Homo sapiens: one gene and its partners. The protein of the gene in region 6 purifies or fractionates together with the protein of the main gene of each other region. This does not show direct contact. Each region holds a gene or a part of one and is shown on either strand. Other genes may lie near its edges. The genes, in order: FARSB, FAM98B, VPS4B, DGUOK, FCSK and PPP1R8.

Region 1 (4,257 bases), on a different chromosome or scaffold from region 6:
AGAAGCCCTCACTCACTGTACAGTAGAAAGGATTAGGGCAAGGCTCCCCCTGGAACTGCCAGTTTGTGCCTTAGTTTCATTACCTGTAAAACAGGGATAATGGTACCTATCTTGATGTATTAGTTTCCCTTGGCTGCTGAAACAAATTACCACGAACTTGCTGACTTAAACCATAAATTTATGCTCTCACAGTTCTGGAGGCCAGAAACCCAAAATCAGTTTCACTGGGCCCAAATCAGCATGCATTATAGGGCTGCCCCATGGGCTGGGCGTGAATCTGTCCTTGTCTCTGTTTATTTCAGGGATACATGTGCAGGATGTGAAGGTTTGTTACATAGGTAAATGTATGCCATGGTGGTTTGCTGCCCAGATCATCCCATCACCTAAGTATTAAGCCCAGCATCTATTAGCTATTCTTGATGCTCCCCGCTCCTCCACCCCCTCACCCCCAGTGTGTGCTTGTCTCTTTGTTTCTGGTGGCTGCTGGCATCCTTGGGTTGTGGCTGCCATACTCCAATCTCTGCCACCGTGGCTAAATCGTCTCTCTCAACCTCCCTTTTATGATTTGATGAGGATACTGTGATTCCATTTAGTGTTCGTCTTTCGAATCCAGGATAATCTTCATCTCAAAATCCTTAACTTAACCTGCAAAGACGCTGTTTCCATATAAAGTTACATTTAGAGGTTGCAGGGATTAGGGTCTGATATTATTGGGGGCCGTTATTCAGCCTATTACACTCAGGGTTGTTTTAAGGAGGAAATTTAATGCTGGCAGAGGGCTGAGCACAGCCCACTGACAGCAGAGAGCACTGAGCAAATAGACAAAAAAAGAGGTCTCTTACAATGCCTCCCTTATAGGGCTGCCGTAAAGTTCAAACAAAGCACAGGTATATCACTTATACGAGTAGAGGAGAGATTAAAGAATGAAGTAAAAACTGAGGTCTGTTAACAGCCCCTCTCCCGCCGCCAGGATTTGCACACCTTTCTCTGCAGGAAGCCTTGAACCCTCTCCACTCGCATTTCCACCACCTCCAGGCAAGATCTCCCACGTGGAGGCCCCACCCCCTCCCTGACGCGCCCCACTCTCGCCCCGCCCACCTGGTGGGCGTCCCCGGCCGTTAGCGCCCTGGAAGCATCCGGGACTTCAGGGTCAGTACATTACAATGCCTGACAAATCCTAGCCAGTTCTATCAAATTATATCTTTCTTACAGGCTTTTAAGCTATTAGTCTCATAAAGATACATTTAATCAGCGAGGTAATGGCATGATGAGTGTTTTTAGGTTAAAAAGAGAACAGGAACTGTTGCCAGCAGAATGGCGATATTCAAGACAACACGCACAAGAAGAGGCGGGTCCTACGCGCTTCGCTAGGGAAGCCCGGGTCAGCTCGCTGCGCAGGCGCAGTGAGTTCGACACACCATGCCGACTGTCAGCGTGAAGCGTGATCTGCTCTTCCAAGCCCTGGGCCGCACCTACAGTGAGTGGCGGCCCTATACGTTGGGCCCTACGCCTCTTCTCGGAGGCAGGGCCTCCCTCCAAAAGGGCAATGTGGCGACATTCATGCCTTCCTGAAGGTTTTGGCTCCGGGAGGCCGGGGTTTACGCGGGAAGGCCGATGATGGTGGCGGTCCGGCTGGGCTGTGGTAGCCTCGGAACCGGCATCGCAGCGGTGCCACTGCTTGTGCCCGGCTTGCCGTGTCATTCATTCAGCGATCTGCCATCGAGTGCCTACAGCGTGCCTGGCACCGACATCCAAGCCAGGGGATAGAACAGGAAGGAAACCCGGGGTTGCATCCCGAGCGTAGCCAGTTAATTGCAATAGCAGCGCTGTGGGAACTCAGTTTATAAGGGGGTAGGAGGAGAGATTTGTGCAGCGGGGTGGAGAACGGCATTCCACCTGTCTTCGTTTTATTAATGTTTCCTGAGCGCCTGTTATGTGTCAGGCACTGTTCTAAGAGCTTAGGACTAGAGCTGTGCACACGACACGTCAGGTCCACGTTCTGTCTGATGGAGGCAGACAATTAACCAGCACGTTAATAAAATGATTTCGGATAATGTTAAATGCCATCAAGGAAAGAAAAGGTGTTGTGCCAAGAACAACTTTAGATAGGGTGGTAACATTTGATCTGAGACCTGAATGGGGAGTATTAAATGGGTGTAGACTTCATTCTACATTTCATCTTTTAATCAGTTCTAAAAACACAACCATTGAAAAAAAGGAGGGAGATATTAAATGCAGTTATCAGTTACCTCACAGCCGTAGCAGCTGCCCCACCCTATTTTTTTTTTTATTTTTATTTTTTGAGACGGAGTCTGCACTCCCAGGCTGGAGTGCAGTGGCGCGATCTCGGCTGACAGCAACCTCCGTCTCCCTGTTCAAGCAATTTTCTGCCTCAGCCTCCCGAGTAGCTGGGATTACAGGCGTCCGCCATCGCGCCCGAGTAATTTTTTTGTATTTTTAGAGAGACCAGGTTTCACCATCTTGGCCAGGCTGGTCTTAAACTCCTGACCTCGTGATCCACCTGCCGCGGCCTCCCAAAATGCTGGGATTACAGGCGTGAGCCACCGCGCCCGGCCCCCACCCCATAATTTTTAGCTTGTATAAAGGCTGGACCAACTGGTTCGTGAGAGCTGTTTTTTTTGTTTTTAGGGCTCAGTGTGTTAACAAAGGCCTAATTGGTTTAATGACAGCCACCGCTTCCCAGAATAAGATTACTGTTACAGTGAAAATAAAGCTGGCTTTTAAGAATCTTTCCTAAGTGTGTACTTTTAGATAGTACCTATTCTCTATGTGATATTCTTCGTAAGTTCTGCCATAAGTCCCTGAAAGTAAAGGAAATACAAGGGTATTGTATTACTCTTACCCTTTGTACTTGGCTCTAATCGCCTAATCGCTTTATTTTATAATGAGCTTATTTATATTTCTTACCTGCCCTTCTAAACCATATTCTCACTAATGGGATGTGGTACAGGTTAATAATTCCTTATCCAAAATGCTTGAGACCAGAAGCGTCTTGGATTTTGGATTTTGGGATATTTGCATATACATAATGAGATATTTTGGGGGTGGGACCAAGTCTAAACATGAAATTGATTTATATTTCACATATACCTTATATGCATAGCCTGAAGTTAATTTTATGGAATACTTTAAATAATTTTTTTTTGCATGAAACAAGGTTTTGACTGTGTTTTTGACAAGTCACATGGAGTCAGGTGTGGAATTTTCCACTTGTGACATCATGTCTGCACTTTAAGGTTTTGGGTTTTGGAGCATGTCAGATTTCAGATTTTTGGATTGGGAATGCTCAGTCTGTATACCTGAATTGCCTAAGATGGTAGGTGGCAAATATTTGTTCAAAACATCTATAATCAGTTCCCATCCCAGTCTCCATTTCTAGGGAGGTAAGAAATAATCCAGATTTTTAAAAATGGTGAGATTTATAACCTATTTACTATCATCTGATGTTTTAACATATTCTGTCTGCTTCCCTTTTTTTTTCATATTGTCAGTGATCAATTAAGATTGATTTTTTCACAAATATGTGTTTGTTAGCTACTGAATCTTTTAAGGTCCAGGTACATGGCTGATGCTTGTAATCACAGCACTTTGGGAGGACGAGGTGGGCAGATTGCTTGAGCTCAGGAGTTGGAGACCAGACTGGGCAACACAGCAAAACCCTGTCTCTACAAAAAGTAGCTGGGTGTGGTGGTGTATACGTGTAGTCCCAGCTACTTGGGAGGCTGTGGCCGGAGGATCGCTTAAACCAAGGCGGTCAAGGCTGTAGTGAGCGGTGATCAAGCCACTGCACTCCAGCCCTGGCCACAAAGTGAGACCCTGTCTCAGAAAAAAAAAAAAAAAATTCAGTCAGAAGGATTGATGTTATTTATTGAGATGTACTTTCAAGAGGTCAGAAATGATTCTCCTCATTAGTTTACCTTTATTGTGTTCTTGCTTGAAACTGTTAACTGGGTTGAGGTCAGAATTGAAAAAGCATGTTCAGCAAACATGTGGTTTCCAAGTAGTATGGATACATCTTGTTTCTTACCTTTTTTTTTTTTCCCCAGTCTTCCTCTTTTTTTCTTGTTTTCAGATAATGTCTCATTCACACTTTTAAAATCCACATTCTCTCTCTTTAGTCCCTCCAAGGGTTGCTTTCTATTTGAAATTCCATTGTTTCTACCAGTCCCCACCTTCCTTTTTACCACCTCTTTGCTTAGCAAGGATATTTCTCTTTCAAGCTGTTTGCCATTTTGG
Region 2 (4,100 bases), on a different chromosome or scaffold from region 6:
TGCCACTGCACTCTAGCCTGGGCGACAGTGCGAGACTGAAAAAAAAAAAAAAAGTGTGTGGCACCTCCCTGCCTCCCTGCACCCTCTCTCTTCCTCTTACTCCGGCCACGTGATAGCTGCACTCCCCCTTCCCCTTCTGCCACAACTGTCCATTTCCTGAGGCCTCCCCAGGAGTGGAGCAGATGCCAGCATCATGCTTCGTGTACAGCCTGTGGAACCATGAGCCAATTAAACCCCTTTTCTTTATAAATTACCCAGTCTCAGGTATATCTTTATAGCAATATGAGAGTGGACTACTACAGCTTACCTTTGAGTGTTTTACACATTTATGGGTATGCTTTTTGTTTGTAACCATAATTAGGAAGGCGAGAGCATTACTGGTCTTTATTGGACTGGGGCTACGAATGCTATGTAGTCTGCAATGGAAGGGACAGGTCCATACAAGGGATCAATAGTTATACTTCATGCAGGATTTCCAACAGTTCTGCTAGAGTATTCATGTAGGTGACATGCCTGCTAATAATGATCTAACCTTATACTCTTAGTACCTTTTACATATGAACCCTAAAATACATTTTTTAAATCCTTTAGATAAGAGATTGAATTCTTCATGGATAGTACACAGAGGGTATATTATGTTTTGTTTGTTTGGAACTTTACAGAGAATTCGCCACAATTTTGGAAAACCACATCAACTACCTTACTTTGCTGGCGGTATGTTTGTTGCTTATACAACTAATGCTTTGTCAGCAATGAAGCACATCATCTGAATATGCAGTTGAGGGGATTCTACATAGATAGATGCAAGCATCTGATCACTTCATTGGTCTTCCGCATTTCATAAGGAGAAAAATATTACCTTGTTATAAATTACTTCATTTTTTCCTTCAAGTTGAAGCATCGTCGTGTATATTGATTTAAAAATTATATGTGTAGGCATGTGATATTAGTTACTAATTTTAGCTGAAGATAATTATAATTTTATTTCAGATTTCTGTTATTAAAAAGGTCTGGAATCGGATAGGTTGAGATCAACCCGATACCACGATATTTGCTAAAATTTATTTGAACACACAGAAAAGTCCCAACACAGAGAACTCTTTATTACTATTATTTATTATTTCTACTATTCTTTTAAAAAATTATTATCGTTACACGCAGCGGTTTTAGGCACTATGAAGTGTTTATTGCCTCGGGGCTGGGAACCTTTGCGCCCTTCTTCAGCTGTGCTCTCAGGCAGTTACCGGCCAGACCCGGACCGGAACCTTGGCGCGGTGACGCTAGTTTCCGGCGGGCTACTTAGAGCGCCGAACAGCTCTGGGCCAAAGGACCATGAGAGGGCCGGAGCCGGGTCCCCAACCGACGATGGAGGGAGACGTGCTGGACACACTGGAGGCGCTGGGGTGAGTGCTTTTGGAGACGCCTTTTCCCTGAAAACGCAACCTCTCCTTGGCCTGGCTGCTTAGCCTACTTCCCTTGGGCCTCTGTGGGCCTGGGCGGCCATGTGTAGGCCTCCTTCCCTGCCTCGATCCCTCCGGCGCCGACGGAGTTAAGCGGGAGGCGGGAGAGAAATCTATTTGGGGGGTGGAGCAGGGCCGGAGAGCTGGGGTTCGTGGCCCCCTCTTCGAAACTTCTTGCCTCGAAACTCTGTTGCAGGAATCCGCCGGGTGGCGCGGAGCGGCCCTTCTAGCACCGGTTTTCTGGGCTAGCTCGCGCCCGCAGGTGATATTTGTGTTGACGTAGTTCTGGCGCCCGGAGGGAGGTGCTGGAACCTGAGCTGCTGTTGAGGACTGTTGTCTCCTACAATGTACAACTTGTGGCTTACTTGGGGCTCTGGAGCGAATGGCTTTTACTTTGACCGGAGAAAGTGTTGTAGTTCATTGCGAGTTCGTTCTTTCAACCATTTCGTCCGTTCGTCAACGTGTATATTAGCTTGTATATTAATTTACACATATTTACGTTTGTAAATTTCCCCTAGGCAAGGGAAAAGGATAGTTTTTCAGATTACTCTTGGCTTACATAGTCGCGCAGGCTGCAAGTCTGCTGCCGGCTGGTATTTACAGTGCAGAATGGTAAGTGCTGTGAGAACTCAGGGTGGAGGTGGGAGTAATGTTAATACTTAACAAGTGTGGTGGTTCGTAATCTCCCCCTCAACCTCATCCTGTTTTTTTCCACACAGCTCTTGTCCCCATCCCAAATTATCATGTCCTGCCCATTCATTTGTCTCTTGAACTCTGCTTCTCCCTCGTTTTATTCCTCCTCCTCCCCAAGTCAGCTCCTGGAAAACTGATGCTTTGCATATTTTATTCACCGATGTTTTCCCAGCAACACACTAGAACGGAGTCTTTTACAGTAAATAGTGGTTGAATGAATGAGTAAATGAATGAAGAAAAGCTTAGAGAAGAGTCCACAGCAGTAAGCATAGGACCAGATAGTTGAGTCATACAGTGCACATTAAATAAAGAGCTTGGAGCCATCTGCACATTTGTTTGCCCTGCTACGTGCTGCTGTTTCTTGATAGGGGAAGCTGTGCCTTTGCAGCGTTATTATGAAGCTTGAACCAATCCCACACCCCACTTTATCTTCTCTAAAACTGCATTTGCCCCTCTATCAATTGTTTCTTTAGTTGAACCCTGATAATACCTACTTTGCAGTGACCCAGGGTTACGGAGTCTTGCACTTAGTAGATCGTGAATACATATTTGTCAAACGAAAGAACAGTGCCATTGATTATTTAGGGGGCATTTTTACTTCTGTGAAGTCCCTTGGAAGTTCTCACTTAACTTGGTTAAGAAGGAACCAAAACAAGAACTGAAAATACTTAGTAGAATTATTTAGGCTCCAAACAGTTTGAGCTCCCAAGTACTTCAGGTAAGAATATTGGGAACTCATAAATGGTTTATGAAAAAGGAAAAGGCAGTGCTTTTCTTCTTTCTTCATTTCTTGAACTTATTGTTCATATTATAAGTGTTTTAGAAAATTCATTGCTATAATCTTGATTTTTATCAAGGAAAATTAGTCAGATTATTCAACATGGAAAGTAAAACAGTTTACACACTCCAAAATTAGTTTTTCCTGGAATAACTATGAGGGCAACATTTTGAAGTTTGAATTCTCCTATGATAATACGATGTGAAAAAAGTAGTTATTTACAATATGTGTTGTAATGGAACACTGTGTTTTCAAATATCCATGTAGATAGTGAATAATGCATTTTCTGTTGTAAGGTATTGAGGATATCAGCAAAGGTACTTCAGTTTGTCATGTAAAATAAATTAATGGGAGGCATTTGAAGGGAAAAATCTATGTGAAAGGACAATTTAGTGATACAGGTGAAAACAGGATAGGCTAGGAGTCAGTCAGTTTTCTCATCTGTGAAAAGAGAGGGCTGGAGCAGATGATTTTAGAAGTCTCTTTCAGTTCTGATAGTCTCTGATTTTGTGGAATAGTAGATCTCAACACTGGAAGTACATCAGAGTCGTGTGGAACTTGTGAAAAACTGTTCCAGTCTAGTATATACCATAGACTGACCGAATCATAATCTTCAGAGGTACAGTACAGACCTGCATATTTTTAAAAAGATTCACAGACTCAGTTGAGAAACACTACTATGGAGAGAAGTTTCCTTTAAATATTTATTGAACACACTGTATATTGGACCTCGTTCTGAGGAGTCAGTGGTGAGCAAAATAGACTTGGTTCCTACCCTTGTGGAGTTTATAATCTAGTGGAGAAACAGACATGATCACAAAAACAATTATAAACTATAATAAATGTGTCAAAGGAAAAGAACAGGGTGATGTAACAGGAGGATCTAAGAAGTCTTAGGGGTTAGTGATAGATTCCTGAGGAAGTGACATTTGAGTTGAAATAAGAAGGGTGAATAGAAATTAAGTAGTTAAGGTTGGATGGATGAAAAAGGGGGACAAAGATATCCTTACAGTGAGAAGAAAATGTGAAGACTTTGAAATGTGAAGGAGCTTGCTGTATTAGAAGAACTGGAAGGAGGCTAATGTGGTTGGAAGGCAGAGTGTGAGGGGCAGAGTGGTGGGAAATTGGATTCAAGAGTTAGGTGAAAATCAGGGCATGCAGCCCCTTTT
Region 3 (3,559 bases), on a different chromosome or scaffold from region 6:
CTGGACAAGCAGATTAAGGACATCACAGAAGTGATCGAGCAGCCTGTTAAGCATTCCAAGCTCTTTGAAGCACTGGGTATCACACAACCCAGGGTGGTACTGCTGTACGGACCTCTAGGCACTGGGAAGACACTGTTTGCCTAGGCTGTGGCTCACCATACAGACTGTACCTTTGTTCATATCCCTGGCTCTGAATTTGTATAGAAATTCATCGGGGAAGGGCCAAGAATGGTGAGGGAGCTGTTTGTCATGGCATGAGGACCTGCCATCTGTCATCAGCTCCATCAGCTCCTCGCAGCTGGAGGGGGGTTCTGGAGGGGACAGTGAAGTGCTGCACATCGTGCTGGAACTGCTCAACCAACTGGACAGCTTTGAGGCCCCCAAGAAGATCAAGGTTATCATGGACCACTGCTTCACTCAGGGCACATCAACAGAAAAATTGAATTCCAGCTGGACATTTTGAAGATCCATTCTCTGAAAAGGAACCTGACCCAGGGGATCAACCAGAGAAAAATTGCCAAGCTTATGCCAGGAGCATCAGGGGCTGAAGTGAAAGTCATATACAGAGAAAGCAGCATATATGCCCTGAGGGAACGGCGAGTGCATGTCACCCAGGAGGACTTTGAGATAGCAGTAGCCAGCGTCATGCAGAAGGATAGAGAGTAAAACATGTCCATCAAGAAACTATGGAAGTGCGGGGATGTCCTTTGTATGGATCCCTCCGGTAAAGCTTTCTGGAATGAAAAAATAAAATAATTAGCTCTCCAGAATTAACCATAGAAGACATGGTTAATTTTATTTCAAATGAAAAATGCTAACAGACATGGTTAATTTTATTTCAGATGAAAAATGTTAACAGAAATAAGGTTGAAATGGTATTCATCAGCAGAAAAAAAACAGATGCATATCCTCTTAATTCATCGTCTTCGATTAAAGGTTTAACGTGTGCCACCCAGTACAGTGGCTGCATGTGGCTATTTTAATTACATAAACTCACTCCTCAGTCACACTAGCCACATTTCAAGTGCTCAGAAGCCATATACAGACATTCTCATCATCAGGGAAAGGCTGGTTTAATTAGCACTATGTTTGGAGCTAGATGCTTAAATAATACCCACTGCAGTATAAGAGATTTAACTTAATAAAAATCAGTGTGGTGCCTCAGTGAGGCCTGACTGAATGAGAGGAACAAGTGGCTGAAGAGGTGAGTGGCACAGCATTTCAAAATCACCTGAGAAGAAAATTATAGTTAGGATAAGAAAGAGCTTATTTCTAGGCCAGGCACGGTGGCTCACGCCTGTTATCCCAGCACTTTGGGAGGCTGAGGCAGGTGTATCACCTGAGGTCAGGAGTTTGAGACCAGCCTGGCCAACATGGTGAAATCCCATCTCTACTAAAAATACAAAAATTAGCCAGGCATGGTGGTGGGTGCCTGTAATCCCAGCCACTGGGGAGGCTGAGGCAGGAGAATCACATGAACCTGGGAGGCAGAGATTGCAGTGAGCCAAGATGGCGCCATTGCACTCCAGTCTGGGCGACAAGAGTGAGACTCCATCTCAAAAGAAAAAAGAAAAAGGATTTATTTCTGCTATGTGGCTTAACCACTGAGGCTTTGAGATGCATTTTTTTTTTTCTTTTTTGAGACAGAGTCTTGCTCTGTCACCCAGGCTAGAGTGCAGTGGCATGATCTCGGCTCACTGCAACCTCTGTCTCCCGGATTCAAGCGATTCTCCTGACTCAGCCTCCCAAGTAGCTGGGATTACAGGCGCCTGGCTAATATTTTTTGTATTTTTAGAGATGGGGTTTCATTATATTGGCCAGGCTGGTCTCGAACTCCTGACCTCAAGTGATCCGCCCTCCTCGGCCTCCCATACTGCTGGGATTACAGGCGTGAGCCACTGTGCTTGGCCTCACTCTGTCACCCAGGCTGGAGTGCAGTGGCACAATCTTGGCTGTGGTGCATTTTTATATGACCAGTCTGACCTAACCACCACTTGACTGTGTGACTCCATGTTTTATGTTCATATACTAGCTGATAAAACTTGAAAATTTAGCTTTGAATTTAGGCTACTTGACCTGTGAGATACGTAACTATTACATTTTATCAATTCTGAAGTAAACCATTTATTTTTCTTCCCTGCTACAATAGAGGAAGCATGGTCTTCCAGCGGGAGACCTGTTCCTCCCATTTACAGATCTCAGCCCAGTTATATCCAATCCATGCTCAACTGCCCCAAAATGTAATATTCTTACACATAATTGGTTTTTGCATTGTTTGAATGATTTTTTGCTTATGTTATATACTTACTTTTTAATATCTCTAACAACTGTCAATTTTCATTTTTTTTTACTGGCACCTATTTCTGTTGAATAGTTTTACTACCTAAATTAACCCAGTTGGAATGTTTTAATAAGTCATGTTTGCCCTTTATTTGTATGTATCTGTGCATAATTTTTTTTTTTTTTTTTTTGAGGTGGAGTCTCACTCTGTTGCCCAGGCTGGAGTGCAGTGGCATGATCTTGGCTCACTGCAACCACCGCCTCCCGGGTTCAAGCAATTCTCCTGCCTCAGTCTCCCAAGTAGCTGGGACTATAGGCGCATGCCGCTACGCCTGGTCAATTTTTTGTGTTTTAGTAGAGACGGGGTTTCACTGTGTTGCCCACGCTGGTCGCAAACTCCTGAGCTCAGGAGAATTTTAGTTTGAGATAATTGTAGATTCACACGCAGTTGTAAGAAATACTGAGAATCCAGCATTCCCTTTATCCAGTTGTCTGCAGTGGCAGCATCTTGTAGAACTGGGACAATATCACAACCAGGATATTGATATTGATACATTCCACCACTCTTACTCATATTTTCCCAGTTTTACTTGTCCTTATGTGTTTTTATGTGTGTGGGTGTGGTTGTTTGTGCAGTTTTATCACATGTAGATATGTGTTACATTTTGAGAGTTCTTTATGTATTCTCGATACTAGTTCTTTGTTAGATATGTTTTGCAAATATTTCTCCCAGTCTATAGATTGTCCTTTCATCCTTTTAACAAAATCTTCCAGAGAGCAAAAGTTTTGTCATAAGATCCAGTTACCTTTTTTTTTCTTTTATATAGTATGCTTTTGATGTCAAATCTAAGAACTCTGCGCATCCCCAGATCCTAAGTTTTCCATGTTTTTTCTAAAAGTTTTAGCTGGGTGCGGTGGTGTGGACTTGTGATCCTGCTATTTGGGGAGGCTGATGCAGGATGATCACCTGAGCCCAGGAGTTTGAGGCTAGCTTGGTCGACATAGTGAGATGGAGCCCCGTCTCAACAAATAAATAAGAATCAAAGTTTTGTAGTTTTACATTTAATTCTATGATCCATTTTTGAGTTAATTTTTGTAGGAAGTATTAAGTTTAAGTCAGAATTCTTTTAGGTGTATGCTTATGGATGTCTAGTTCCTCTAGCACCACTTCTTAAAAAGCCTGACTCGGTGCCATTGACTGGCTTTTTGCATCATTTTCAAAAATCTCTTGGCTTTATTAGTATGGATTTATTTCTGGGACTTTTTAAAAAAATGCCAC
Region 4 (3,993 bases), on a different chromosome or scaffold from region 6:
TAGCCATTAACGCCCCACCCTGGTTATCCTTAAAAAATTCGATTAAAAAAAAAGTTCTTAATATATAAACATGACCTCAGCCATCCTATATATACATCAACATAAGAAAAAGGTCCCGTGCTTTTTATGGGAACAGCTTCAAGACAGGTATCCCAGCCCCCGGCCCCTCCCCAGCCCCCTTGCAATCAGATCCTTGTCTTCTAAAACCTGCCACACCTAAGAGCGCTGCCTGAAGGCCGGTTTGGCCTGTTGACTCCTGGTTTTGACTGTTGGTGATTTAAGCGATTGGAACTGGAAGCACCATTTGACAACATTTTGTAAATCATTACTTCTGAGGTTGTTATGACGACGGGGTGTGGCAGTCCGGCTTCACCTGTGGCAGCAGCTTAGGTCCCTGCCCTCCTGCAGAGCACACTTCACCGACAGCAGGACTCAGGTTTTATACAAGTCTCTACTCGCCATTGCTTACGTCCAAGAACCCAGCCTACCAGGTTTAAACAATTTCCAGTCACATACCTGAGCCACCACCACCTTATCCTGAAGGGATTTTTGGGTATAATGCAAATCGATTGACCGAACATTTATTTACTTATTCAAGACACAAACTAAGAGATGGGGTGTAACTGATTATCTAATTTGTTAATTTAGTCAATAATATGCCAGCATTGTGCAGGGGAATTACAGGGAATAGGAAAAAGTTAAATTTGTGTAAATCATCAGATTGAGTCATTTTCCTACTTTAAAACTTCCATTTTCTTCCGATATTAAAATAAAAACCAGACAACAAGCACCTGGGGGGGGGGAAATCCCCTCTTAAAATTACAATTTCTATTTTTAATTTTGTCTTCAGTTATAAAATTTATTTTAAAGTTATACAAAAATGAAGTGGTTGGATTGTGGAATTACGTCTTTTAAAATGTTATTTGTCCAATGAACAAAAACCACTCGCACCGCAACTCCTTTTACTATCAAATTCTGCACCGTTGCAAAACTTCCTTCACTCAACGCTTCTTTACAAACATCGCGATAGCGGAGCGGTCTCTTGGGCGCACCCCGCCGCATGTTCAACCCCACCCACTTCCTGTCTGACGATCTCCTTACGTCAACGGTGCGCTGGAGCGAGTGAGCAGCGATACCTAGGGCGGAAGTGCTCTCGGCGGAAGTGATCGCTGTGTGAATCGTGGGTGGGATGGCCGCGGGCCGCCTCTTTCTAAGTCGGCTTCGAGCACCCTTCAGTTCCATGGCCAAGAGCCCACTCGAGGGCGTTTCCTCCTCCAGAGGCCTGCACGCGGGGCGCGGGCCCCGAAGGCTCTCCATCGAAGGCAACATTGGTAAGGGCCGGAAAGCGGCTGCCAAGCCTTGGCCTCCGCCACGCAGGCGACAGAGGCTGGGAAAGGAGCTGGGCCCGGAATGGCCTGCGTCTGATGCGGCCGGCCTCTTTTTCTGGGCTGCGAGGAGAGCCTTTCCCCTCGCAAAGTGCACTGTGTATCTTTGCCTCCTTGTTTTTAGGATATCGGGCCTCAGTACCCGCCCACAGGAACATATTTGTTGGGGCATAAAAGCCACGCAGTTAGTGGATAGGACAAGAATTGTATTAGCTGTTTGTAATAGATCGAAATTGAAGCGACAAGCGGGTGCAGTTTATTTGTTCTCCTAGATAGGGTTGCCATATTTAGCAGAAATTAAAAATAATATCCAGTTAAAATAGAATTTAAGATAACGAATAATTTTTAGTGTGTGTCCAATGCAATATTTGGGACATCCTTACAGCAAAACAACAACGAAATCACTCATTGAAAGTTCAAATTTAACTGTGTCCTGTATTTTATCTGGCAACCCTATTCGAAGAGAGTTCCTAAATTTCAGTCGTTCAAATACCACATTCACAATTTTTGCCCTGTGCCTGTGCTAGTTGCATAATAATTTCTTAAGGCTTTTCTTAGAAGAACCTCACTTTTTAAACTTAAAAACATGTATTAAATTAAAAATTATTTTGTTAAAAGAGTGAGATCCAGTATCTTGAATAAAAAGTAGTCAGAAAGCAAAATGAAGGCAAAGCATTTCGATTTAATATTAATAAATTCTGACTTGATACTTTTATCTACCAAGTCACTGAGCCCCTAAAAGGGGCTTAGCAAGTGTTGAGTACTGAAGACGTAGCAGCAAACTGAGAATTTCTTTTTTTATTCATTCAACAAATCACCTTTTGAGCCACTTCCATATGCCAGCACTGTTCTTGGCCTGGAGAATACAGCTGTGAATAGAACAAATAAAAATCTCTGCTCTCATGGAACTCAAGTAGGGAGAGATGGACAATAAACAACATAAATTAAGCAAGGTGAACAATATGTTAGAGAGTAATAAGTATGATGGAGAAAAATTAGGGATGAAGAATTGAGGGAAGTTTTTATTTTATTTTATTTGAGATGGAGTTTTGCTCTTGTTACCCAGGCTGGAGTGCAATGACACGATCTCGACTCACTGCAACCTCTGCCTCCCTGGTTCAAGCGATTCTCCTGCCTCAGCCTCCCGAATAGCTGGGATTAGGGGCACCCGCCACCACACCCAGTTAATTTTTGTTTTGTTAGTAGAGACAGGGTTTCACCATGTTGGCCAGGCTGGTCTCAAACTCCTAACCTCAGGTGATCCGCCTGCCTCGGCCTCCCAAAGTGCTGGGATTATAGGCGTTAGCCACTGCACCTGGCCGAAGTTGTCATTTTAAATAAAATAAGCAAGGCCTCACTGAGAAGGTGACATCTGAGCAAAAAACTGAAGATGAGGGAGCAAATCACGTGGATACCTGGGAGAAGAATCTTCTAGGCAGAGTGAAGAGCAATTGGAAAGGCCCTGAGGTGGAAAGTGTGTTCGGGGAATAGGAGGGAAATCGTTGTGACTGAAGTCGAGTGAGCAAGGATGGGAGGGAAATTAGGGCAAAAGCCCAAGGGGTGGCCAGATTTTATAGGCCTTATCATGGGTTTTTAATCTTACCGAGATGGGTAGCCATTGGAAGGTTTGAGGAGTCAAGTGACAGTTTTACTTAGATTATAAAAAGATCACTGTGGCTGATAACATTGAAAGTGAAGAGTGTTAAGTGGTATTGCAATAATTATAGTATTGTGAAAAGTGAAAGTGGTGAGACGTGATTGGATTCTAGTTATACGTTAACAAAAATTGAGTTACATTTTAAGTAAAATTTAACAGTGGAAGTGGTGAGAAATGATTGGGTTCTAGTTATATTTTAAGATAGGGCCAATTGGATTTGGTGACAGGTTGAATGCAGAGTGTAAGGTAAAGAGAGGGGCCAATGATGACTCCAATTATTTTGACTTGAGTACTTGAAAGATAGACTCCTGATTTTCTTTTATTTCCTCCTCTCCTTCTTCCTCCCCTCCCCTCGCTTCCCCTCCTTTGGTGTGGTCTTGCCCTGTTGCCAGGCTAGAATACAGTGATGCAATTGCATCTCACTGCAGCCTGCCTCCCAGGCTCAAGCCATCCTCCCACCTTAGCCTCTTGAGTAGCTGGATCCACAGGTGTTTGCCACTATGCGTGGCTAATTTTGTATATTTTTTGTAGAGACAGGGTCTCACTATATTTTCCAGGCTGGTCTTGATCTCCTGGGCTCAATTGATCCTCCTGCCTTGGCTTCCCAAAGTGCTGGGATTACAGAAGTGAGCCTTGGTTTTAAGCATGTTAGGTTTTTACATGCCTATTAATATCCAAGTAGAGGTGTTGAATAGGTAATTGGATATGTAAGTTCAGAATTAGGGTCTCCCCGGACTGGAGCTGTAAATGTAGGTGGTATTTAATGCCAGAGACTATGTGTTGATGGAAAGGACTGAGCCCTGAGCATGCAAATATTATGAAACTGGGGAGATGGGAAGGAATAAGCAGAGACTGAGAAGGAATGCCTACTGAGGTAGGAGAAAAAAACAAAAGAGAATGATATCCTGGAAGCCAAGTGAAGAAGGTATTCAGTGGGAGGGAATGATCAGC
Region 5 (4,116 bases), on a different chromosome or scaffold from region 6:
TTGTAGTCCCAGCTACTCAGGAGGCTGAGGCAGGAGAATCACTTGAACCCAGGAGACGGAGGCTGCAGTGAGCCAAGATCACGCCACTGCACTCTAGCCTGGGCAACAGAGCGACTCTGTCTCAAGAAAAAAAAGAAATGCCCCAGAGAGTCCAATGGCCCAGAAGTTCTGAGCCCAGTCTTCATCTCAGCATAGTGATAGAGAGACATGGGCAGGTGACAGGTCATGGCCAGAGTGGGGAGAGTATCCCTTACTAATGACAGGGGCAGAGGAACAGTCCTGGGTTGCGTATCAGTCCCAAAAGGCTCTGTCCCCATCTCTACCTCTTCCTGCTTCCTGTAGGATCCTGAGCAAGTTACTTAATCTATTTTTTTTTTTAAGATGGAGTCTCGCTCTGTCACCCAGGCTGGAGTGCAGTGGCGCAATCTTGGCTCACTGCAACCTCCGCCTCCCAGGTTCAAGCCATTCTCCTGCCTCAGCCTCCCGAGTAACTGGGACTACAGGCGCGCACCACCATGCCTGGATAATTTTTTGTATTTTTAGTAGAGACGGGGTTTCACCATGCTGGCCAGGCTGGTCTCAAACTCCTGACCTTGGGATCCGCCTGCCTCGGCCTCCCAAAGTGCTGGGATTACAGGCGTGAGCCACCATGCCCAGCAGTTACTTAACCTCTCTAAGCCTCAGTTTCCTAATCTGAAATTTAAGGCCAAAGACATCAACCTCCCAGGACTGTTTTCAGCATGAAATACAATGTAAAGTATGTGGCACACACCAGTGGCTCAATGAATGATAATCCTTCCAGCCAGGCAAGGAAGCAGGAGAGTTTAACCTGTCCCTGAAGGAGGAAGGACTGGAAGCTCTCAAACATTCTCTGAGTTAAAGACTGTCCTGAAGAAGAAAAAAATCAGGGAAGGCCTCGGGAATCAAGCAAGGCTGAGGGACATCCCCTGAGAGATTAACAAAAAAGGTAAAATGATACAAGTAGCTAATACATATGGAGTGCTTTTTCAGGCACTATGGCAAAGGCACATCAGTGTCACTTCATATGACCCACCCAACAGTCCTAAGAATTGGTTCTTATCTCACTGAAGCTCTAGACAAGAAAACTGTAGTTTAAAAAGCAGAAACATAGCTATTAGGTTGGTGCAAAAGTAATTTTGGCTTTTGCCATTGCTTTAATAGCACAGGCAGGCTAGGCTTTTGTTTTGTTTTGTTTTGTTTTTGAGAAACAGGGTCCGGCTCTGTCACCAGAGGGCGGAACGCAGTGATGTGATCACAGCTCACTGCAGCCTCAAACTCCCGGGCTCCAGCGATCCTCCCATCCCAGCCTCCCAAGTAGCTGGGACTATGCATGAGTCCTGCTAGTTTTTTATTTTTTGTTGAGATGGGGCCTCCCTTTGTTGCCCAGGCTGACCTACAACTCCCGGACTCAAGTAATCCTCCCGCCTTGGCCTTCCTAAGTGTTGGGATTACAGGTGTAAGCCACCATGCCTGGCTTTTTTTTTTTTTGAGACAGTCTCCCTCTGTCGTCAGGCTGGAGTGCAATGGCGCGATCTCGGCTCACTGCAATCTCCGCCTCCCAGGTTAAAGTGATTCTCCTGCCTCAGCCTCCCAAGTAGCTGGGATTACAGACGTGCACCACCACGCCCAGCTAATTTTTGTATTATTAGTAGAGAGGGGGTTTTGCCATGTTGGCCACGCTGGTCTCAAACTCCTGACCATAGGTGATCTACCTGCTTCCGCCTCCCACAGTGCTGGGATTACAGGCGTGAGCCACCTCGCCCGGCCTTTTTTTTTTTTTTAATTAATAGTTTGCTGGAGTTACACAATCTCAAGAGGTCCTGAGAAAGTGTGCCCTAAGGCCCTAAGGTTCTTTTGTTGTTGTTGTTGTTGGTTTGTTTTGTTTTGTTTTTGAGACGTAGTCTCGCTCTGTCGCCCAGGGTGGAGTGCAGTGGCGTGATCTTGGCTCACTGCAACCTCCATCTCCTGAGTTCAAGCGATTCCCTCGCCTCAGCCTCCCAAGTAGCTGGGATTACAGGCATGAGCCTTGGCGCCCAGCCTCTACCCACTTTCAATACAGCCTCATCTGCTGAGATCAAGTTGAAATATTTTTTAGTGTCCTCAGCCCCACGCTGTCCAAGACTGGGATAGGGTTGGGGAGCCAGAGATAGAATAAAGTACTAAGAACTCTTCATATGAACCTTTTGAAGACAGGTGGGTCAGGGACTGCACATTTTAGAACTTTAAAGAGGAAAAAAAGGCTCACGGAGGACTCTGACTTGCTGCCTTCTAAATAACAGACCGAAAGAAGTTACTTGGGAGTAAAATCGTTTTGTAAATTACCCAAGAGCACATCATTGAGATTTGTGCATAATACTGAGCCCTGGCCGGGTAAACTGAGAGAGGAGAAGCGGCCTCAAAGTAAAATCAGAGCAGCGCCGGCATCCAGGGCCCCACCTGCCTCAGGGTGAGGATCCTCTGAGGCCCGCATCCCTCCCGGTCCCAGCTGCCAGCAGGTCCGGCCGCACCAGCCGGGTCGCGGGGCTCCCCTTGGAAGACCCAGGCCAAATGGACGCGGGAGCGTAGAAACACCTGTGGGCTCCCGGGGCACCGCAGAGCTCCCGGGGACTCTTCCCTGTCAGGACCCGGGCGGCCCGCGGGTCGACTCGGTGCTCCCAGTCAGGGAGGGTGCACCGGAAAGCTGAGGGGGCGCAAGGGGCGCAAGGGGCGCAAGGGGCGCTGCGGCGACCCTCGCGGACTGACGTACCTGCCGTCGCCCGGCGCTCGGCGGAGCGGGCTCTTTAACGCGAGGCTGCGCGACCCTCGCGGTGCACTCCGGGAAGTGTAGTTTCACCTCCGCGCCCCCCCAAGGCCGAGCCCCCGTCCGGCAAAAAACACGGTCGGAGCCACCGCATAGGCCAGCGTGGGTGGCCGGGGCAGCGCTTTCCTGAAGGGCAGCGGGGCTGCAATCCAGAAGGGAGATGGGAAGGGGGCCGCTCCAGGACCCACGAAACTACAACTCCCAGAGGACCGAAGCGCCTTAAAGACAGAGGCCCGTTTTCTGGGACTCCGGGATCCAGGTTAATAGGTTAATGTGTAGCTTTTTTGTTTGTTTTCTCGTTTGGGTTTTTTTTTTTTTTTTTTTTTAACACCTTCTGGACGGCACCAGGAGCTTCCGCTTTCCTCTGGAGAAAAATCCACTGATGGAGGAAAAAAAAAAATCACGCTTTGCCCAAGCGGAAGCAGCTGCCATTCGATTTGCAGTTGGAAAGGTTTGCGCTGGTTTCATCACGTGGATCCTTTGGGAAGAAACTTTCCAACTCCGTAATGGGGAGGGGATCTGCGGACCTTTTGGGAAAGTTGTGAATGGCAGCATTGATTGTCATAGATGACAATTGGAAATACTCTGAGTGTCTCTCTCTAGGTTACTATGTGAAAGGAAAATAAATCTCAGGACCCCAAAGTCACTAAGTCAAAGGGAAAAGTCAAGCTGAGAACTGCATCAGGGAAACCTACCTCCCATTTTATTCTTAAACAAGATAACTACAAAGATAAAAAAGCTAGATATGGCCTGGCCCTCACAACTTGCCCACTAGGAAATTCCTTGTGTGCCCCCAAATCTGTACCCTAAAACAGTTGTGTGGAATTTCAGTGACAATGTAAATTTATAGCTTATCTTCACAGGTGCTGGGCTTTGACAGCACTGAAAGTCATCTCTCAGCTCACCTGAGACAAATGCATATCTCATTGCTTCCTCTGCCCTATGTTTATTTTTTCTTATGTAAAAATGCATATTCACTGAGCTAGATGAATGCATAAGTGACTAGTCCTCTATCCCCCTCTAACATGTGAAAGGCTTATCAAAGACTCAGAAGAATGCAGCCATTTGCCTCTTACCTACCCATGCCTTTTAAAAATTTCCTCTTTCAGGCCAGGCACGGTGGCTCGCACCTGTAGTCCCAGCCCTTTGGTGAGGCCGAGGCGGGTGGATCATGAGGTCGGGAGTTGAAGACCAGCCTGGCCAATATGGTGAAACCCCGTCTACTAAAAATACAAAAATTAGCTGAGCGTGGTGGCGCGCACCTGTAGTCCCAGCAGCTTGGGAGGCTGAGGAAG
Region 6 (3,559 bases):
CATCCTGGCTAACACGGTGAAACCCTGTCTCTTCTAAAAATACAAAAAATTAGCTGGGCGTGGTGGCACACGCCTGTAGTCCCAGCTACTCGGGAGGCTGAGGCAGGAGAATGGTGTGAACCCGGGAGGCAGAGCTTGTAGTGAGCCGAGATCACGCCACTGCACTCCAGCCTGGGTGACAGAGACTCGTCTCAAAAAAAAAAAAGAGTTGTTACTGTCTTGAGGGCAGGCCACTTATATCTAATAGAATTAAGAAAAGTTGGGCCGGGCGCAGCGGTTGGCTCATGCTTGTAATCCCAGCACTTTGGGAGGCTGAGGAGGGCAGATCACGAGGTCAGGAGAACGAAACCATCCTGGCTAACACGGTGAAACCCCTACTAAAAATACAAAAAATTAGCTGGGCGTGGTGGCGGGCGCCTGTAATCCCAGCTATTTGGGAGGCTGAGACAGGAGAATCTCTTGAACCCGGGAGGCGGAGGTTGCAGTGAGCCGAGATCGCACCACTGCACTCCAGACTGGGCGACAGAGCGAGACTTAGTCTCAAAAAAAAAAAAAAGAAGTTGGCCAGCCATGGTGGCTCACACCTGTAATCCCAGCACTTTAGGAGGCTGAGGTGGGCAGATCATGAGGTCAGGAGTTCAAGACCAACCTGGCCAGTATGATGAAACCCTGTCTTTACTAAAAAATACAAAAAGTAGGCCAGGCTCGGTGGCTCACGCCTGTAATCCCAGCACTTTGGGAGGCCGAGATGGGCGGATCATAAGGTCGGGAGTTCGAGACCAGCCTGGCCAACATGGTAAAACCCCGTCTCTACTAAAGATACAAAAAATTAGCCGGGCATGGTGGCGCGTGCCTGTAATCCCAGCTACTTGGGAGGCTGAGGCAGGAGAATTGCTTGAACGCAGGAGTTGGAGGTTGCAGTGAGCCAAGATTGCACCATTGCACTCCAACCTGGGTGACAGGGTGGGACTCCATCTCAAAAAAAAAAAAAAAAAAAATTAGCTGAACGTGGTGGTGCACGCCTGTAGTCCCAGCTCCTTGGGAGGCTGAGGCAGGAGAATTGTTTGAACCCAGGAGGCAGAGGTTACAGTGAGCCAAGATCATGCAACTGTACTCCAGCCTGGGCAACAGAGTGAGACTCCATCTCAGAAACAAAAAAGAGAAAGAAAAGTTATTTTCATACCAACACTAGACAAACACTACATTGAGGAGATGAATTACCATCCATTCTCCAAAAAATGTTATTTTAGTAAATTATTCTGAGTACTTTATGTTGAAGAATAATGGGAGATATTTTTTTCTCCTTGGAAAGGATTTATTTTTCTTTTTTTGATGCAAGGAGATGGAGTTTTTACTCAATCTAATGGAAAGGAATTTTATCTACTCAAGATTCTCTATTTGGGAGAGTTTTTGGTAAATGCTGTTGAAACAAGATTTAAGTAATATTTAATTTAATATTTATTTAGAAACTGATTATTGATGAGAAGAAGTATTACTTATTTGGGAGAAACCCTGATTTGTGTGACTTTACCATTGACCACCAGTCTTGCTCTCGGGTCCATGCTGCACTTGTCTACCACAAGCATCTGAAGAGAGTTTTCCTGATAGATCTCAACAGTAGTAAGTAACTCCCTCCCAATTCACATGTTACCTTTAGGCAATATGAAAATACTCTTTGGGTTCTTTAGTTTGGAAATTACGTTTTATGGAAAAAGTTAATGTTTGGTTTTTAAATCCACCCTTCTCTATTTCTGTGATTTTTCTATTTTCCTGAGATAATTGCTAACTGACTGTGGAGAGAAGAGGGGTTTGGGGAGCACTGTCCTGGAGGAATCAATAAGCAAACATAAGCTGGATGTGGGGGCTCACATCTGTAGCTACTCAGGAAGCTGAGGCGGGAGGATCACTTGAGCCCAGGAGTTCAAGACTGCAGTGAGCTATGATCACACCACTGCACTCCAGTCCGGGTGACAGAACAAGACCCCATCTCTTAAAAACAAACAACCAAAAAAGAGCTGGGTGCAGTGGCTCACTCCTGTAATCCCAGCACTTTGGGAGGCCGAGGTGGGCGAATCATTTGAGGCCAGGAGTTTGAGACCAGCCTGGCCAATATGGTGAAACCTCGCCTCTACCAAAAATACAAAAATTAGCTGGGTGTGGCGGCGGGTGCCTGTAATTCCAGCTTCTTGGGAGGCTGAGGCAGGAGAACCGCTTGAACCCAGGAGTGGAAGGATTCAGTGAGCTGAGATGGTGCCACTGCACTCTAGCCTGGGCAACACAGCAAGATTCTGTCTCAAAAAAATAAAGAAAAGGAAAAAGGCACCCAGGAACTAGGGACCATGTGTGTTCAAGTGTTTATAGGACCATAATAAATTGTGATTCTGTTTCAGCAGAAGCCATGATTAGCTCCATTGATGTAATAGAGCAGCAACATAGGGCATTTTAAGAATGATTGTCTTGAGGAAAATTTCATTATTCTGGTTCTTTATCCCATCTCTGTTTTGCTTTGACTGTGAATAATACCAGTTTTAATTCCATAAGCAAGGCCAGGCATGGTGACTCACACCTGTAATCCCAGCACTTTGGGAGGCCGATGTCAGTGAATCTCTCAAGCCCAGGAGTTCAAGACCAGCATGAGCAATGTAATGAGACCCGCGTCTCTACAAAAAAATACAAAAAGTAGCCCTGTATTGTGGAGTGCGCTATGGTCTCAGCTGCTTGGGAGGCTTAAGTGGGAGGATCGTTTGAGCCCAGGAGGTGGAGGTTGCAGCGAGCCATTATCGCATGACTGTACTCCAGTCTGGGTGACGAAGCAAGCCCTACCTCAAAAAAATAAAAATAAAATACTCCATAAGTATTAATTAATTGAAGTATCCATAAGCATACACCAATTAATAAGAGTTTAAACTTCGCCTAAGATAATCCACAGAAATGCAATTGAGATTTAACTGCATGGGGCCCTGAAGTTTGTTCATTTTGCCCGTGTGTGAATACAGTGTAAAATGTAAAGGGTCCTGCTTCCTGGGCATATCATGTTGGACTCCACCACTCTCCTACTACCATACGCAGAAACATACACTCACACATCACCCTAATCTGCTTATATAAGGGTCTTGGAGAGCTTTGTCTCGCAAATACTTATCTTTTCTCTCCCATTTTATAACATGCAGAATGCCAACAGGGGAAAATATTCAGAATCTATAGTAGGATTTTGGCTTGCTTTGGCATTGATATTGCACCTGTTTCAGCCAAGCTCTTTCTTGTCCTGGGGAAAACCTAAGCATAACTGCCACCAGGCCAGCAATTTCTATATTCTTTTGACTTGGAGCTGGAGAGGGAAAACTACAGTGATGTCCAGCTCCTGCTTTGGGAGGCGTGGCTTCTGCTGGGTTGGAGCCATTCTTATTTGACCCAGAATGGAGCCAAGCCTGTATGGCAGCAGAGAACGGTCAGTGGTATTTGTTATCTGGGGGAACAACAGGTCTGAGGATATAAGAAACCCACCGAGGAGATTCAAGGCTCAGTGAGGGAGTTTCCTTCTCACTGTAACACATGATGG

What was found.
Region 1: the proteins of PPP1R8 (region 6) and FARSB fractionate together in Homo sapiens (co-fractionation; one large-scale study listed by BioGRID). This does not show direct contact.
Region 2: the proteins of PPP1R8 (region 6) and FAM98B fractionate together in Homo sapiens (co-fractionation; one large-scale study listed by BioGRID). This does not show direct contact.
Region 3: the proteins of PPP1R8 (region 6) and VPS4B fractionate together in Homo sapiens (co-fractionation; one large-scale study listed by BioGRID). This does not show direct contact.
Region 4: the proteins of PPP1R8 (region 6) and DGUOK fractionate together in Homo sapiens (co-fractionation; one large-scale study listed by BioGRID). This does not show direct contact.
Region 5: the proteins of PPP1R8 (region 6) and FCSK fractionate together in Homo sapiens (co-fractionation; one large-scale study listed by BioGRID). This does not show direct contact.

What each region holds. Positions count from the first base shown.
Region 1 is NC_000002.12:222,653,236-222,657,492, reverse strand, and holds the start of FARSB (phenylalanine--tRNA ligase beta subunit), read left to right. Parts: upstream 1-1,400; 5' UTR 1,401-1,419; coding exon 1,420-1,477; intron 1,478-4,257.
Region 2 is NC_000015.10:38,452,830-38,456,929, forward strand, and holds the start of FAM98B (protein FAM98B), read left to right. Parts: upstream 1-1,297; 5' UTR 1,298-1,332; coding exon 1,333-1,403; intron 1,404-4,100. UniProt on the Homo sapiens protein: Positively stimulates PRMT1-induced protein arginine dimethylated arginine methylation.
Region 3 is NC_000018.10:63,412,451-63,416,009, reverse strand, and holds part of VPS4B (vacuolar protein sorting-associated protein 4B), read left to right. Parts: intron 1-3,559.
Region 4 is NC_000002.12:73,925,722-73,929,714, forward strand, and holds the start of DGUOK (deoxyguanosine kinase, mitochondrial isoform a precursor), read left to right. Parts: upstream 1-1,158; 5' UTR 1,159-1,189; coding exon 1,190-1,331; intron 1,332-3,993.
Region 5 is NC_000016.10:70,453,282-70,457,397, reverse strand, and holds the start of FCSK (L-fucose kinase), read right to left. Parts: upstream 2,804-4,116; 5' UTR 2,768-2,803; intron 1-2,767.
Region 6 is NC_000001.11:27,837,233-27,840,791, forward strand, and holds part of PPP1R8 (nuclear inhibitor of protein phosphatase 1), read left to right. Parts: intron 1-1,466; coding exon 1,467-1,620; intron 1,621-3,559. UniProt on the Homo sapiens protein: Inhibitor subunit of the major nuclear protein phosphatase-1 (PP-1). It has RNA-binding activity but does not cleave RNA and may target PP-1 to RNA-associated substrates. May also be involved in pre-mRNA splicing.